Linked DNA regions of Homo sapiens. The protein of the gene in region 1 interacts with the protein of each later gene in a pairwise test. Each region holds a gene or a part of one and is shown in the gene's direction. Other genes may lie near its edges.

Region 1 (7,652 bases):
AGCTGGTCTTGAACTCCTGACCTCAAGTGATCCACCCGCCTCAGCCTCCCAAAGTGCTGGGATTACAGGTGGTACTTTTATTATTATTTTAGAGTGCACTCCTTCTACTAAAAAAAAAAATGTTAACTGTAAAAACAGTCTCAGGCAGGTCCTTCAGGTTGTATTCCAGAAGAAGGTGGTGTTATCATAAGAGATGACAGCTCCATGCGTATTATTGTCCCTGAAGACCTTCCAGTGGGACAAGATGTGGAGGTAGAAGACAGTGATATTGATGATCCTGACCTTGTGTAGGCCTAGGCTAATGTGGGTGCTTTTGTCTTCATTTTTAACAAAAACGTTTAAAAATTTAAAAAGTAAAAATAGAAAAAAGCTTATAAAATAAGAATATAAAGAAAGAAAATATTTTTGTACAGCTGTACAATGTGCTTATGTTTTAAGCTAAGTGTTACTACAAAAGAGTCAAAAAGCTAAAAAAAATTAAGAAGTTTATAAAGCAAAAAAAGTTACAGTAAGCTAAGGTTAATTTATTGTTAAAGAAAGAAAACTATGCTTGAGAATTTAGTGTAGTCTAACTGTACAATGTTTATTAAGTCTATAATAGTGTACAGTAATGTCCCAGGCCCTCACATTCACTCACTATTCAATCACTGGCTCACCCAAAGCAACTTCCAGTTCTGCAAGCTACATTAATGGTAAATACTCCACACAGGTGTATGATTTTTAACAATCTTTTGTACCATATTTTTTACTGTACCTTTTCTGTGTTTAGGTACACAAATACTTAGCACCGTGTTACATTTGCCTATAGTTTTCAGTGCAGTCACATGCTGCACAGGTTTGTGGCCTAGGAGCAATAGGCTACACCAAATAGCCTACGTGTGTAGTAGGCTATATACCACCTAGGTTTATGTAAGTATACTCTATTATATTTGCACAACAATGAAATTGCCTAACAACGCGTTTCTCAGAAAGTATCTTCATTGTTAAGCAATGCATTACAGTACATGGTGAAATGCTTACTACAGGTAAGCAATTTAATATATCCATTATATCATATAGTTACCTTGTTTTGTGGTAAGAGCAGCTAAAATCTACTCTTAGAAAATTTGCAGTATGCAATACAATATTACTAACTGTAGTCCTCATACTGTACTTTAGATCTCTAGATTTATTCGTCTTATAAAACTGCAACTTTGTACTGTTTGACATGCATCTCTGCATCCCCTCCCCACCCTGCCTCTGGTAACTACTGTTTTATTCTCTTTTTCTATGTATTTAACATTTTTTTCTTTTTCGATTTTACATATAAGGGATATTAATAGCATGCAGCATTTTTCTTTCTGTGTCTGGTTTATTTCATTCAGCATAACGTCCCCCAAGTTCATCTGTGTTGTTGCAATGGCAGAATCTCTTTCTTTTTCAAGGCTAAATAACATTTTTTTAAATTTTATCTTAGTTTCAGGGGTACATGTGCAGGTTGTTATATAGGCAATTGCATGTCATGGGGGTCTGGCGTACAGATTATTTCATCACCCAGGTAATAAGCATAGTACACAATAGGCAGTTTTTCCATCCTCACCCTACTCCCACCTTCCGCCCTTAAGTAGGCCCCAGTGTCTGTTGTTCCCTTCTTTGTGTCCATGTGTACTCAATGTTTAACTCCCACAAAGAACATGCAGTATTTGGTTTTCTGTTTCATTGTACATATATACCACAATTCCTTTATCCATTCATCCATTGGTAAACAATTTTGTTGTTGCCGCATCTTGGTCATTGAGAATAATACTGCAGTGAACATGGGGGCACAAATATCTACAGGAGGTGATGATTTCGTTTCCTTATGCCCAGACAAGGGATTGCTGGGTCATATGGTAGTCCATTTTCAATTTTTTGAGAAAGCTCATACTGTATTCTAGAATGGCTGTACCAATTTGCATTTCCACCAATAGTGTAGAAGCGTTCCATTTTCTCTACACTCTTGCCAACATTCATCTCCAGTGGGTTTTTGTTTGGTTGTTTTTGTTTTATTTTTTTATAATAGCCTTCCTAACTTGTGTGAGGTGATATCTCGCTGTGGTTTTGATTTGCATTTCCCTGATGGTTAGTGATGTTGAGCACATCTTTGTATAGCTATTGGACATTTTTATGTCTTCTTTGAGAAATGTCATACAAGTAGTGAATTTTCTTGAGTACTGATTATGTTGGAAATGTGATTGAATACTGTATTAAAAATTGTTGAGATCAAAAAATTTTTTTAAAAAAGTTTGTCTATTCTTGGTTTGCCTAATTCCTTTTAGTCTTTCTTCTTATAAAATTAAGAGTTACATATCTGGATTTGCTTAGATTATTAAAGAATGTAGGAGAGATTAAATCCTAATTTATTGGACTTCATACTCACTCTCTTGTTTATTCCTTAATCATTAATTGAGCATCAGCTCTTTGGAAGTCTTCATGTTAGTACTGGGAATGTTTTCCCCAAAACAAATCAATTTCTTGCCCATTTAATTTTAGAGTCTGGGAGCAGCTGTCATAAAAAAAAAAAAGATGATGAGGTGCTCTCTAAAACTTAAAGAACAAGTACAAAGGAGGAATGAGAAAAAGAGGAGGTTTGAGATGAGAGCAATCAAGTGTAAATGCCCTGAGGCAAGGCAGTTTGGAGTGTTAGGAAACCTCAAGTCCCCCATTGGGAGGTAATTTTAAGGGAAACTACATGGTGGGCTGGATGAGACTGTGGGAGGGGCCAGGCCCTCAGATGGTGCCTCTCAGAGGTGTGAGACAAAGCCTGGAATGGGAAGTAGTTCTTAACAGTTATTTTGTGCTCACGGATAAACCAGAGAGAATCTGCACCTGGGGCAGGAATGGAATGTGCCCTGTGCTCTTGTCCCAGTGCAGCAGAACATAGTCACAGTGCACAAACTAGGTGCTTTATACAGTTGGTGCATTTCAGTGTTGAGAGACTAAGCCCGGAATGGGAAACTATCCCTAACATTTACTTTCCTGTTGTGGGAAAACCAGAGAGAACCCCTACCTAGGACAAAAGTGAAAAGTGTTCTATGTCCCTATCCTAGCACAGTCTAATACAGTGCACAACCTAGGTGTTCTATGTACATCATCTCTAGTGAGTTTCTGAGAAATAAGGGAGATGACAGCTTCAGGGGAGGTAAGATGCCCAGAAGCCACCGTGCTGGCACTCTTTGTCCTGGGTTGGAGAATCAAGAGCCCGCTCTATTAAAAGGACTTTCAACAGGGGTGCAGCCAGGCATGGTGGTTCATGCCTGTAATCCCAGCACTTTGGGAGGCGAGGCAGGTGGATCTCTTGAGATCAGGAGTTCAAGATTAGTCTGGCCAACGTGGTGAAACCCCGTCTCTACCAAAAATACAAAAATTAGTTGGGCGTGGTGGTGGACATCTGTAATCCCAGCTACTAGGGAGGCTGAGGCACGAGAATCACTTGAGCCCTGAGGCACAGGTTGCAATGAGCCGAGATAGTGCCTCTGCACTCCAGCCTGGGTGACAGAGTGAGACTCCATCTCAAAAAAAAAAAATAAATAAATAATAAAAATCAAAACAGGAGTGGTTAACATAGAAGGGTGCCTAGGAGTTAGAAAAAAATATTGGTCATTGACAAAAATTTTGAGACTTGAGTTGTATCCAATTGGAGAAGGCTCTTCCACAAACACTTTATAAATTATATAATTTTCCTTGCTAAGCAGCATTTTGTTTGATTATAATTTCTTTGTTTGGAGTTTGGTAATATGCTCAAGTTCACAGGGTGAGTAAGTGACAGGGCTGGGACTAGACTCCTGTTGTGAATTCTTCTAGAGCCCACACTCTTCATTCTGTTCCTCTCTGCCTGGAGCAGACTTTGTGTTCTTTAATTCACTTTTCTTCTCAATACTTCCAAATATATCTCAGGGGTTAAAAAGAAGGATTCTGTGCCCAAAGAATTGGATTGGAATACATAGCCAAAGCAATAAAGAATATCAAAATAAATGAAAGCTACAAATAAAGAGGAGAAAGAGATATTATTCAGTGACAATATGATCATCTACATATGCACAGTCAGATAACCTCAAAATCAGGGACCACACAATCATCTTGAACAGCTCCTTCCCCTTAAGAAGTAAATCAATTAAAACAGAAGTCACATAAGAGGCTAGTGCTGGCTATTGAAAAGAGTAAATCAGCATCATTTTTCTCTGACAACCCACCAGCTACCTTGGACTCCCTGCTTTGTGTTATAATTTCTTTACCTCACATTAGCCCTGGGGCACAGACTTGCAAGGTTTGCAGTAGGAACGCTGCCCAAGAGTTTGCAGGGATGTGGCATTTCCCAGGAAGCCTTTATTCAGAGAGGCAAGAGAAAATAAGGAGGACACCCATAAATAAATACTGGAAAGACAACCACACCAAAAGATAACGGGGCAATCTACCCAAACCTCTTCTCAGCCTAGAATGCCCCAGGCAGTGCAGTCAGACTGAGCATCCTCTCTTTTACCCTTCAGAGTTCTCAGTGAAGTGAGAGTTTTGACCTAAGGTGACCTCAGTTAACTAGAGGGAGGATCCAGGGTCTGGCAGATATCAGGGAGGACCTTGAATGAAGAACAGGAGGAGCCAGAACAGTGATGTCCCATAGAAACCCGACTCCGCTGTCTGCCCTCACAGGACCCAAACATCCCTGGCCTAATGTGGCTCATCAAAACTTCAGCCTAGATCTCGGAGGACCTTGATCTGAGCAGGATTCATGGCATGGAATGTGGAGTCCCAGGACTGGCCAGCAGCGAAGTGAGGTTCTTGAGTGAGTAAAAAAGGGAAAACTAAACCCACAAATAAGGGGACTTCTCGGAGCCCAATCCATATTTTTAACCCTGGAAAGCCCTAGGCAGAGCTATAAAACTGGCTTGCCTCTCATTTCAGCCTGGCGGATCTCAGGGAGGGGAAGGCTTTGTCTAACAGGGCAGCCTCAGTTCTTCAGAGGTCTCTTGGCCCTAACTAGAGTCAAGATGAAGACCAAGCCGGTGCGGCATCTCAGGCCTGTAATCCCAGCACACTGGGAGGCCGAGGCGAGTGAACTGTTTGGGCCCCCCCAGGAGTTCGAAACCAGCCGGGACAACATGGCGAAAACCTGTCTCTACAAAAAAAAAAAAAATGGCGGGGCAGCAGTGGAGCACCCCTGTAGTCCCAGCTACCCAGGAGGCTGAGGTGGGAGGATCGCTTAAGCCCTAGGGGTCAAGGCTGCAGTGAGCCAAGGTCACGCCACTGCGCTCCAGCCTGGGTGACAGAGAGAAACACTGTCTCAAATTAGCCGGGCGTGGTGCGGCGCACGTGTAGTCCCAGCTATTCGGGAGGCGGAGGCAGGAGAATCGCTTGAACCCGGGAGGCAGAGGTTGCAGTGAGCCAAGATAGCGCCACTGCACTCCCGCCTGGGTGACAGAGCGAGACTCCATCTCAAAATAAATAAATAAATAAATATAAACTTTTTTTTTTTAATTTTAAGGCAGGGCTCTGGCTCACGCTTGTAATCCCAACATTTTGGGAGGACGAAGCCAGCCTCATCGCTTAAGCACAGGAGTTCGAGGACTGGGAGGTGGAGGTTGTGGTAAGTCAAGATTGCGCGGCTACACTCCAGCCTGGAAGACAGAGAGAGCCCCTGTCACAAAAAAAAAAAAAAAAAAAAAAAAAAGAAAGAAAGAAAGAAAGAAATATGAGGCCCACCGGTGCTAACCAGGGAACCTCTCTCCAAAAGAAGGGCCCACCAAAAGCCCTAACCCTGTTTCAGGTCTTTGAAGCCCCAGGACATGGTCCGATAACATGCCTAGACTTCCCCTCTAGGGACTATGGGAGGGGAGGATTTTGGAGGTTGGCGGACTTCGCTCAGTAGAGGTGTTACTCTGCTCCGCTTAGTATCAAGGTGAGAACCCTGAATAAGGACCTAGGGACCACTGACTCCAGAACAGTGGGGTCCCAGCGTGTCACCCGCTGCTGTCAGCCCTCGGAGACCCCGAGCGGGGTGTGGCTCAGCCTCACTTCCGCTTTGAAAGTGAGGCAGTTGGCCTGACGGGTGCAATAGCTTCAGTCAGGTTCGTGGCCTAGCGTGAGTCTTAGAACTGATCCGGAGTAAAGGTAAGAACCCTCAGCGGGGACTGAAGGGACAATCCATGTTTTTAACCCTGGAAAGCCCTAGGCGGAACTATAAAACTGGCTTGCCTCTCATTTCAGCCTGGCGGGTCTCAGGGAGGGGAAGGCTTTCTCTAACAGGGCAGCCTCAGTTCTTCAGAGGTCTCTTGGCCCTAACTAGAGTCAAGATGAAGACCAAGCCGGTACGGCGTCTCAGGCCTGTAATCCCAGCACACTGGGAGGCCGAGGCGAGTGAACTGTTTGGGCCCCCCCAGGAGTTCGAAACCAGCCGGGACAACATGGCGAAAACCTGTCTCTACAAAAAAAAAAAAAAATGGCGGGGCAGCAGTGGAGCACCCCTGTAGTCCCAGCTACCCAGGAGGCTGAGGTGGGAGGATCGCTTAAGCCCTAGGGGTCAAGGCTGCAGTGAGCCAAGGTCACGCCACTGCGCTCCAGCCTGGGTGACAGAGAGAAACACTGTCTCAAATTAGCCGGGCGTGGTGCGGCGCACGTGTAGTCCCAGCTATTCGGGAGGCGGAGGCAGGAGAATCGCTTGAACCCGGGAGGCAGAGGTTGCAGTGAGCCAAGATTGCGCCACTGCACTCCCGCCTGGGTGACAGAGAGAGACTCCATCTCAAAATAAGTAAATAAATAAATAAATATAAACTTTTTTTTATTTTTTATTTTAAGGCAGGGCTGTGGCTCACGCTTGTAATCCCAACATTTTGGGCGGAGGAAGCCAGCCTCATCGCTTAAGCACAGGAGTTCGCGGACTGGGAGGTGAGCTGCCCCTGTAGTCCCAGCTACCCAGGAGGCTGAGGTGGGAGGATCGCTTAAGCCCTAGGAGTCAAGGCTGCAGTGAGCCAAGGTCACGCCACTGCGCTCCAGCCTGGGCGACAGAGAGAGACACTGTCTCAAATTAGCCGGGCGTGGTGGGGCACAGGTGTAGTCCCAGCTATTCGGGAGGTGGAGGCAGGAGAATCCCTTGAACCCGGGAGGCAGAGGTTGCAGTGAGCCAAGATCGCGCCACTGCACTCCCGCCTGGGTGACAGAGCGAGACTCCATCTCAAAATAAATAAATAAATAAATAAATAGATATAAACTTTTTTTTTTTTTAATTTTAAGGCAGGGCTCTGGCTCACGCTTGTAATCCCAACATTTTGGGAGGACGAAGCCAGCCTCATCGCTTAAGCACAGGAGTTCGAGGACTGGGAGGTGGAGGTTGTGGTAAGTCAAGATTGCGCGGCTACACTCCAGCCTGGAAGACAGAGAGAGCCCCTGTCACAAAAAAAAAAAAAAAAAAGAAAGAAAGAAAGAAAGAAATATGAGGCCCACCGGTGCTAACCAGGGAACCTCTCTCCAAAAGAAGGGCCCACCAAAAGCCCTAACCCTGTTTCAGGTCTTTGAAGCCCCAGGACATGGTCCGATAACATGCCTAGACTTCCCCTCTAGGGACTATGGGAGGGGAGGATTTTGGAGGTTGGCGGACTTCGCTCAGTAGAGGTGTTACTCTGCTCCGCTTAGTAACAAGGTGA
Region 2 (7,022 bases), on another chromosome or scaffold:
ACATCAACTACAGATGCTAGAGCTGGGATCTAACCGCATCCGGGTAGGTGCAGACAGCCCTGACTAGTATATTCAGGGAGAGGCAGCTAGCGGGCTGTGTGTGGACTCAGTGGGTGTATGTAGAATGCATGGTGAGTCTGCATTTCTTACAATGCTGTGATTTTTTTCATGAACAAGGAAATTACTATTTTTTTAAGAAAAAATGCTAACTGAAAGTCAGTATCAGTAAGTCCTGAGTGGTCTAGCCTTTCTTCCGCACGTAGATTTCAGTTGCTCTTCATCCAGATCATGACCCTGAATCACACTGTTCCCAGTTACATTCTGCCTGAGATGAACCAACCAACCTGAATGCCTTGCTCTTGAACTTCCTCATGGTCATCTTCTCTGGCATGCTTCTTCGAGATGAAAGTTTCCCAAGCCCAGCAAAGTGGTCACTTGGAGTGAACTGATGTACATACCGGGGCTTTAGAAAGCCTCTTGATCATGGTCATCTTCTCTGGCATACTTCTTCGAGATGAAAGTTTCCCAAGCCCAGCAAAGTGGTCACTTGGAGTGAATTGATGTACATACCGGGGCTTTAGAAAGCCTCTTGATCATGGTCATCTTCTCTGGCATGCTTCTTCGAGATGAAAGTTTCCCAAGCCCAGCAAAGTGGTCACTTGGAGTGAATTGATGTACATACCGGGGCTTTAGAAAGCCTCTTGATCATGGTCATCTTCTCTGGCATACTTCTTCGAGATGAAAGTTTCCCAAGCCCAGCAAAGTGGTCACTTGGAGTGAACTGATGTACATACCGGGGCTTTAGAAAGCCTCTTGATCATGGTCATCTTCTCTGGCATGCTTCTTCGAGATGAAAGTTTCCCAAGCCCAGCAAAGTGGTCACTTGGAGTGAACTGATGTACATACCGGGGCTTTAGAAAGCCTCTTGATCATGGTCATCTTCTCTGGCATGCTTCTTCGAGATGAAAGTTTCCCAAGCCCAGCAAAGTGGTCACTTGGAGTGAACTGATGTACATACCGGGGGCTTTAGAAAACCTCTTGATGCTGACACACTCCCAAAGGCAGTGCTGAGTTGGGCCTTCCTCCCTGGACAGCTTTATACTCCTGGACACCGTCCCCAGCAGGATTAGATCTGTTCTCCAGGATCCATTTGACCTTGAAAACGTGGGACAGAATGGAAATAAAAGAATTTTGAAAAGTGATCTGGTGTTCCACAGAAGCAGGATCAAGTCTTCACCAGCTGACTCATAACCACCGTCATGTGCTGGAGGGGAACTTGGGAGGGCGTCCCAGGAGGACTGACATTGGAGGTGGATCTGCCAGGCAGGGAGGAGGGAGGGTTCCCGTGGGCAGGAAGGAGGACTTCTCTCAGCCAGAAGAACACTTGAGCCCCGTGCCTGGCTCCTAATCAGGGTCATGGCACGGAGCCTTTGCTCCCCCGGCCTGGCTTAGTGGCTTTGGCAGCTGTGTCTAAGCACATCCGCCCCTGCCCATGTTCAGAATGCCCCTCTACTTGGCTTCTGGAAGTATTACAGCATTCTCTGTCTGTCCTGGGCCCTTGAGAGCTTGGACAGGATACAAACCAAGGGAGGGTGGTTTTGGCAACAGTCTCTTGACAGTTATTGTTAGAGATGTCATGGCCACAAATAGCAAAGCAGCACATTTAAAACTAGAGAGCAGCCCAGATGTCCGCATTTTACCAAGTGTCTCACTATGGAACTTTCTAGGGCAACAGTGGCTCATCACAAATTAATGCAGGCTACAGCATGTGAGGATGCCCCTGCCCCCGCCAAGTCCTGCAGTGGTGTGTGGATTAGCACACCATCTCCCCTCCTAGAGTCCCCACCTGGTTAGCATGCACCTTATCTGGTTATTTTGTGTCTGCTGAAATATTTAAAGAATGACTTGTTCTGAGAGAGAGTGAACTGACAGAGGAGGGAAACTGAAGTCAAATCAATAAACAGTCATTAAACATCCTGCTGTAGGCAAGTCACCATGGGGAGACCAGACAGGGCAGCGTGGTCACTGCCTCTGGAGGTTTATGGTTGAATAGAGGAGCACACGATCACAGCAAGAGTGATGTAGGAGGGTGTGGAAACTGGGCAAGAGGGGCAGAGTGCTGTGGTGTGAGGGCCCCCCAGGAATCCTAAGTGAGGGTCCCAGGATTTCAAAGACTTGAGGTCAGAGTGCCCCGTACCTCTCTTCTGTAGAGACTGAGGCTCTTGGGAGGACTTTTTTTTTTTTTTTTTGAGACGGAGTCTCGTGCTGTTGCCCAGGCTAGAGTGCAGTGGCACAATCTCGGCTCACTGCAAGCTCTGCCTCCTGGGTTCACGCCATTCTCCTGCCTCAGCCTCCGGAGTAGCTGGAACTACAGGCACCCGCCGCCACGCCCAGCTAATTTTTTTGTATTTTTAATAAAGACAGGGTTTCACCGTGTTAGCCAGGATGGTCTCTATCTGACCTTGTGATCCACCTGCCTCAGCTTCTCAAAGTGCTGGGATTTCCACGCCCGACAGGGGGACATTTTAATGTGTCAGCTCACAAATTTAGAACTGGAAGGGACTTGGGAATCTACTGGTCCTTGGGTTCTGAGACTGTTCCTCAGCACCCCAGGAAATCTGAGGGTTGGGAATGAGCTCAAGACAGTCTTGGACTCGCCACTATTGTATTCTACCTTCAAGTAGGATTTCCACTGGAAGTCTTAGCAGATACGTCACTAGCCCCACATCGCAGAGCTGAAGCCCACATAGCTCTGCCCCGGTCCAGGCACCTGCTGGCTGCCTGGGGCAGCCTGTCAACTGCAGTACTCATTGCTGTTCTGTCCTTTCCACAGGCAATCGAAAATATCGACACCTTAACCAACCTGGAGAGTTTGTTTTTGGGGAAAAACAAAATTACTAAACTTCAGAACCTGGATGCGCTCACCAACCTGACAGTCCTCAGTATGCAGGTACGGAGCTTCCTGAGCCGCCCTTCCCTGCGAGCCCTGGCAGGGCCAGCGCTGCTGGACACAATCTTAGTTTTTATCCTTCACTGCCTTCACAATTGGCACTTCGTTGCACTATTAGTAAGCAATTGAAACATTAGATGCCATAGACTTTATACACACATGTGCCAAGCAAAAACTTGATTCTCTTTTTTATTTTTTATTTATTTTTTTCACTTTTTTAGAAACAGGGTCTTTATCTGTCACTCAGGCTGCAGTGCAGTGGTGCTGTCATAGCTCACTGCAGCCTCCAACTCCTGGGCTCAAGCCAGCTTCCCACCTCAGCCTACCAAGTCGGTAGGACTACAGGCATGCACCACGACCTTCAGCTAATATTTTGTCAAGGGGGTGAGGAATGGAAGAGATGAGGTCTCACTATGTTGCCTAGGCTGGTCTTGAACTCTTGACCTCAAGTGATCTTCCTGCCTTGGCCACCCAAAATGCTGGGTTTACAAGCATGAGTCACCACTCGTGGCCTTTCTTTTTTTTTTAAGAGACAAGGTCTCACTCTGTCATCCAGGCAGGAGTGCAGTGACAAGTGCATTCATAGCTCACTATAGCCTCACACTCCTAGGCTCAAGCAATCTTCCCTCCTCAGCCTCCCAAGTAGCTGGGACTGCAGGTACACAGCACCATGCCTGGCTAATTTTTGTATTTTATGTAGAGAAGGGGTTTCCCTATGTTGCCCAGGGTGGTCTTGAACTCCTGGACTCAAGCAAACCTCCTGCCTTGGCCTCCCAAAAAATTTCTTTCTTAAGTGCCATGTTTTTGGCTTTTTCCACCCACCCACCTCCCCCTTCTGCCCCAGTAGCAGTCATAGATGGTTTTTAGCCAAAGGGGACTTCTTCAGAAGGTGGAGCTTATTCTAAATTCTAAAGTGTTTGGCTCAATGGTAAAAGCAATTCCTTCCATTGCACAGAGAATATCAACCCTGTTAGACTTCTGCATTTGGGAGTTGGTAAGCACTTGGGTGTGCCTAGGCTCCTGTTTACCTTTTGTGTTGGAAGCAAATTAGCAGAATTGGACCCTTGAAGCGAGATGGAACAGAGTGCTCTGGGGACGAGGCCCGGTATGGTTAGTTGATCCCTGATCCCTTCGACTGATACTGAGGGGCATGTGGAAACCGCTCTTAACCCTTGGTGAAGCAGAAGTTTGTCAGGCTTCTTTAAGAAAGTTCTTGGCCTGGTACAGTGGCTCATGCCTGTAACCTCAGCACTTCGGGAGATCTAGGCGGTCAGATCGCTTGAGCCCAGGAGTTCAAGACCAGCCTGGGCAACATAGTGAGAGCCCATCTCTAAAAAAATTAAAAATATAAAAAAAAGCTCTTAGGCCAGGCGTGGTGGCTCACGCCTGTAATCCCAGCCCTTTGGGAGGCCAAGGCAGGCGGTTCATTTGAGGTCAGGAGTTTGAGACCAGCCTGGCCAACATGGTGAAATCTCATCTCTACTGAAAATACAAAAATTAGCCAGGCATGGTGGCGGGCGCCTGTAATCCCAGCTACTCAAGAGGATGAGGCAGGAGAAATGCTTGAATCCAGGAGGAGGACATTGCAGTGAGCCAAGGTTGTGCCACTGCACTCCAGCCTGGGTGACAGAGCGAGAGTCCATCTCAAAAAAAAGAAAGAAAGAAATTATAATTAATTTACTTTAAAATATTCAGTAATTTTTACACTTTAAAATTATTAAATCAGGTAAACCTTCACCAAATGTATCTTTTAACAATGAGTTCTTTTTTTTGGTTTTTTTTTGAGATGGAATTTCGCTCTTATTGCCCAGGCTGGAGCACAGGGGTGCAATCTCGGCTCACTGCAACCTCAGCTTCTGGGTTCAAGCGATTCTCCTGCCTCAGTCTCCCAAGGAGCTGAGATTACAGGTGTGCACCACCACGCCCGGCTAATTTTTTGTATTTTTAGTGGAGACAGGTTTCACCATGTTGGCCAGGCTGGTCTCAAACTCCTGACCTCAGGTGATCCTCCTGCCTTGGCCTCCCAAAGTGCTGGGATTATAGGTGAGAGCCACTGCACCTGGCCTAACAATGAATTCTTTATATAAAAAACATGTAATTCCCATGCATGAATTTTAGCTCAGTACAGCAGGCTCAAAATTTTGATCCTCTTTTTCTCTCTACATGAGTCCCATTCTAGCATGTTTTTTGTTTGTTTGTTTGTTCGTTTTGAGACGGAGTCTCGCTCTGTCACCCAGGCTGGAGTGCAATGGTGCAATCTCGGCTCACTGCAAGCTCCACCTCCCAGGTTTACGCCATTCTCCTGCCTCAGCCTCCCAAGTAGCTGGGACTACAGGCACCCGCCACCACGCCCGGCTAATTTTTTTTGTATTTTTTTCGTAGAGACGGGGTTTCACCGTGTTAGCCAGGATGGTCTCGATCTCATAACCTCATGATCCTCTCGCCTCGGCCTCCCAAAGTGCTGGGATTACAGGCGTGAGCCACCGTGCCCAGCCCTTTATATATATATATTTTTTTTTGAGATGGAGTCTCGCTCTGTTGCCCAGGCTGGAGTGCAGTGGCATGATCTTGGCTCACTGCAATCTCCGCCTCCCGGGTTCACGCCGTTCTCCTGCCTCAGCCTCCCGAGTAGCTGGGACTACAGGCGCCCATCATCACACCTGGCTAATTTTTTGTATTTTTAGTAGAGATGGAGTTTCACCACGTTAGCCAGGATGGTCTCGATCTCCTGACCTCGTGATCTGCCCCACTCGGCCTCCCAAAGTGCTGGGATTACAGGCATGAGCCACCGCGCCCGGCCCCATTCTAGCATGTTTTAAGTGAAATTCTCTGTTCTTAGAATTCTTCAAGATAACACAAAACCTCGTTTCCTAAAAACCGTTTCATTTCATACCTTCTGTACTGTTCTGACAGCTGTGTGCTCTCCCTCTTGCAGAGCAACCGGCTGACCAAGATCGAGGGTCTGCAGAACCTGGTGAACCTGCGGGAGCTGTACCTTAGCCACAATGGCATCGAGGTCATCGAGGGCCTGGAGAACAATGTAAGACACCCACTGTCTGTCTGGGGCTGTGTGGGCGGTGGGCACCAGGCGGGCAGGCACCTGGCCAGCCAGCACACACTGGCCTCTCGGGCCGGTGTCAGGAAGATGCCCTGCCTCTGGAGGTTTATCAGAAAGACCTTCCCATCCTAAAAACTAAGGGACCCTTTCCTCATACTGAAAAGTGCAGGAGCTGTGTGTGCCTGTTGGCCCTCTGCCCTGAGTGTGCCTTGAAGGGCTGACGCTTTATGTGGGATTTCAGCACAGGCTTCCCTAGGCTTCCTCAATGGGGCAGCATCCATTGCACACCCACTGTGCACTGCAGGCATTTTGCAAGATTTGAAAAAAACAAACCCAACCTGCTCGTAAAGGGCCCTGTATGAGGGTGACTGGCATCCCTTTAGGCCACTGACCTGTCCATGGGTCCACTGGCCTCAGCCCCTACTTCCCAGCCCACAGAGAGCACAGGACCAGCTCTCAGTCCCAGCCCCTTCCTCTTCTTACAGTATGAGCAGCTTCCTCCTCCCCCATTCCTCCCTGCCTGCTTTCCACACCTGTCCTCACCTGTTCATGCTCCTCCCTCCCTCCCCGGCCCTTCTCACTCAGGTGCAGGACAGCCTCACGTACTGAGGGGAAGTGTGCTCACAGAGCCCCCACCCTCCTCAGCTGCCTCCAGCTCACCCTGCTCTGCCCCAGTGCGGTGTTCAAGACAAATAAAAGACTTTTTCTCATTCAATTTTACTTGTTTTTTTCTGTTTTGTTAAATTGCCAGCAAATACAACCAGATTGGTCTATAAACATAGTGTTTCAATCTCATTAAAGGCCTTTGTGCCTCAACCCCAGGGCCTAGTTGGCAGCAGTAAATTTCACCAACACCTGCATAAAATTTTGGAAAAATTCAAATTTGCCTGTGGAAAGTTTGGTCACCTTCCTTTGACTTTGCATTGAAATTAAAAGTTTATAAAACTAGCATGCAAACCAAGTGTTCACCTGTGTAGTTTAGAGTGGTAAGTCGAGACGTGCCTGCAGTGGAAT

What was found. Proteins that work in one complex are often made in the same cells at the same time.
Region 2: the proteins of MAGEB3 (region 1) and PPP1R7 interact in binary tests that used the Homo sapiens proteins (3 or more experiments, as listed by UniProt).

Annotation. Positions count from the first base shown.
Region 1 is NC_000023.11:30,226,020-30,233,671, forward strand, and holds the start of MAGEB3 (melanoma-associated antigen B3), read left to right. Parts: upstream 1-4,637; 5' UTR 4,638-4,798; intron 4,799-5,497; 5' UTR 5,498-5,599; intron 5,600-6,047; exon of another isoform or gene 6,048-6,123; intron 6,124-6,807; 5' UTR 6,808-6,897; intron 6,898-7,242; 5' UTR 7,243-7,344; intron 7,345-7,652.
Region 2 is NC_000002.12:241,160,452-241,167,473, forward strand, and holds part of PPP1R7 (protein phosphatase 1 regulatory subunit 7), read left to right. Parts: coding exon 1-43; intron 44-2,833; coding exon 2,834-2,950; intron 2,951-5,885; coding exon 5,886-5,990; intron 5,991-6,593; coding exon of another isoform or gene 6,594-6,617; exon of another isoform or gene 6,618-6,723; intron 6,724-7,022. UniProt on the Homo sapiens protein: Regulatory subunit of protein phosphatase 1.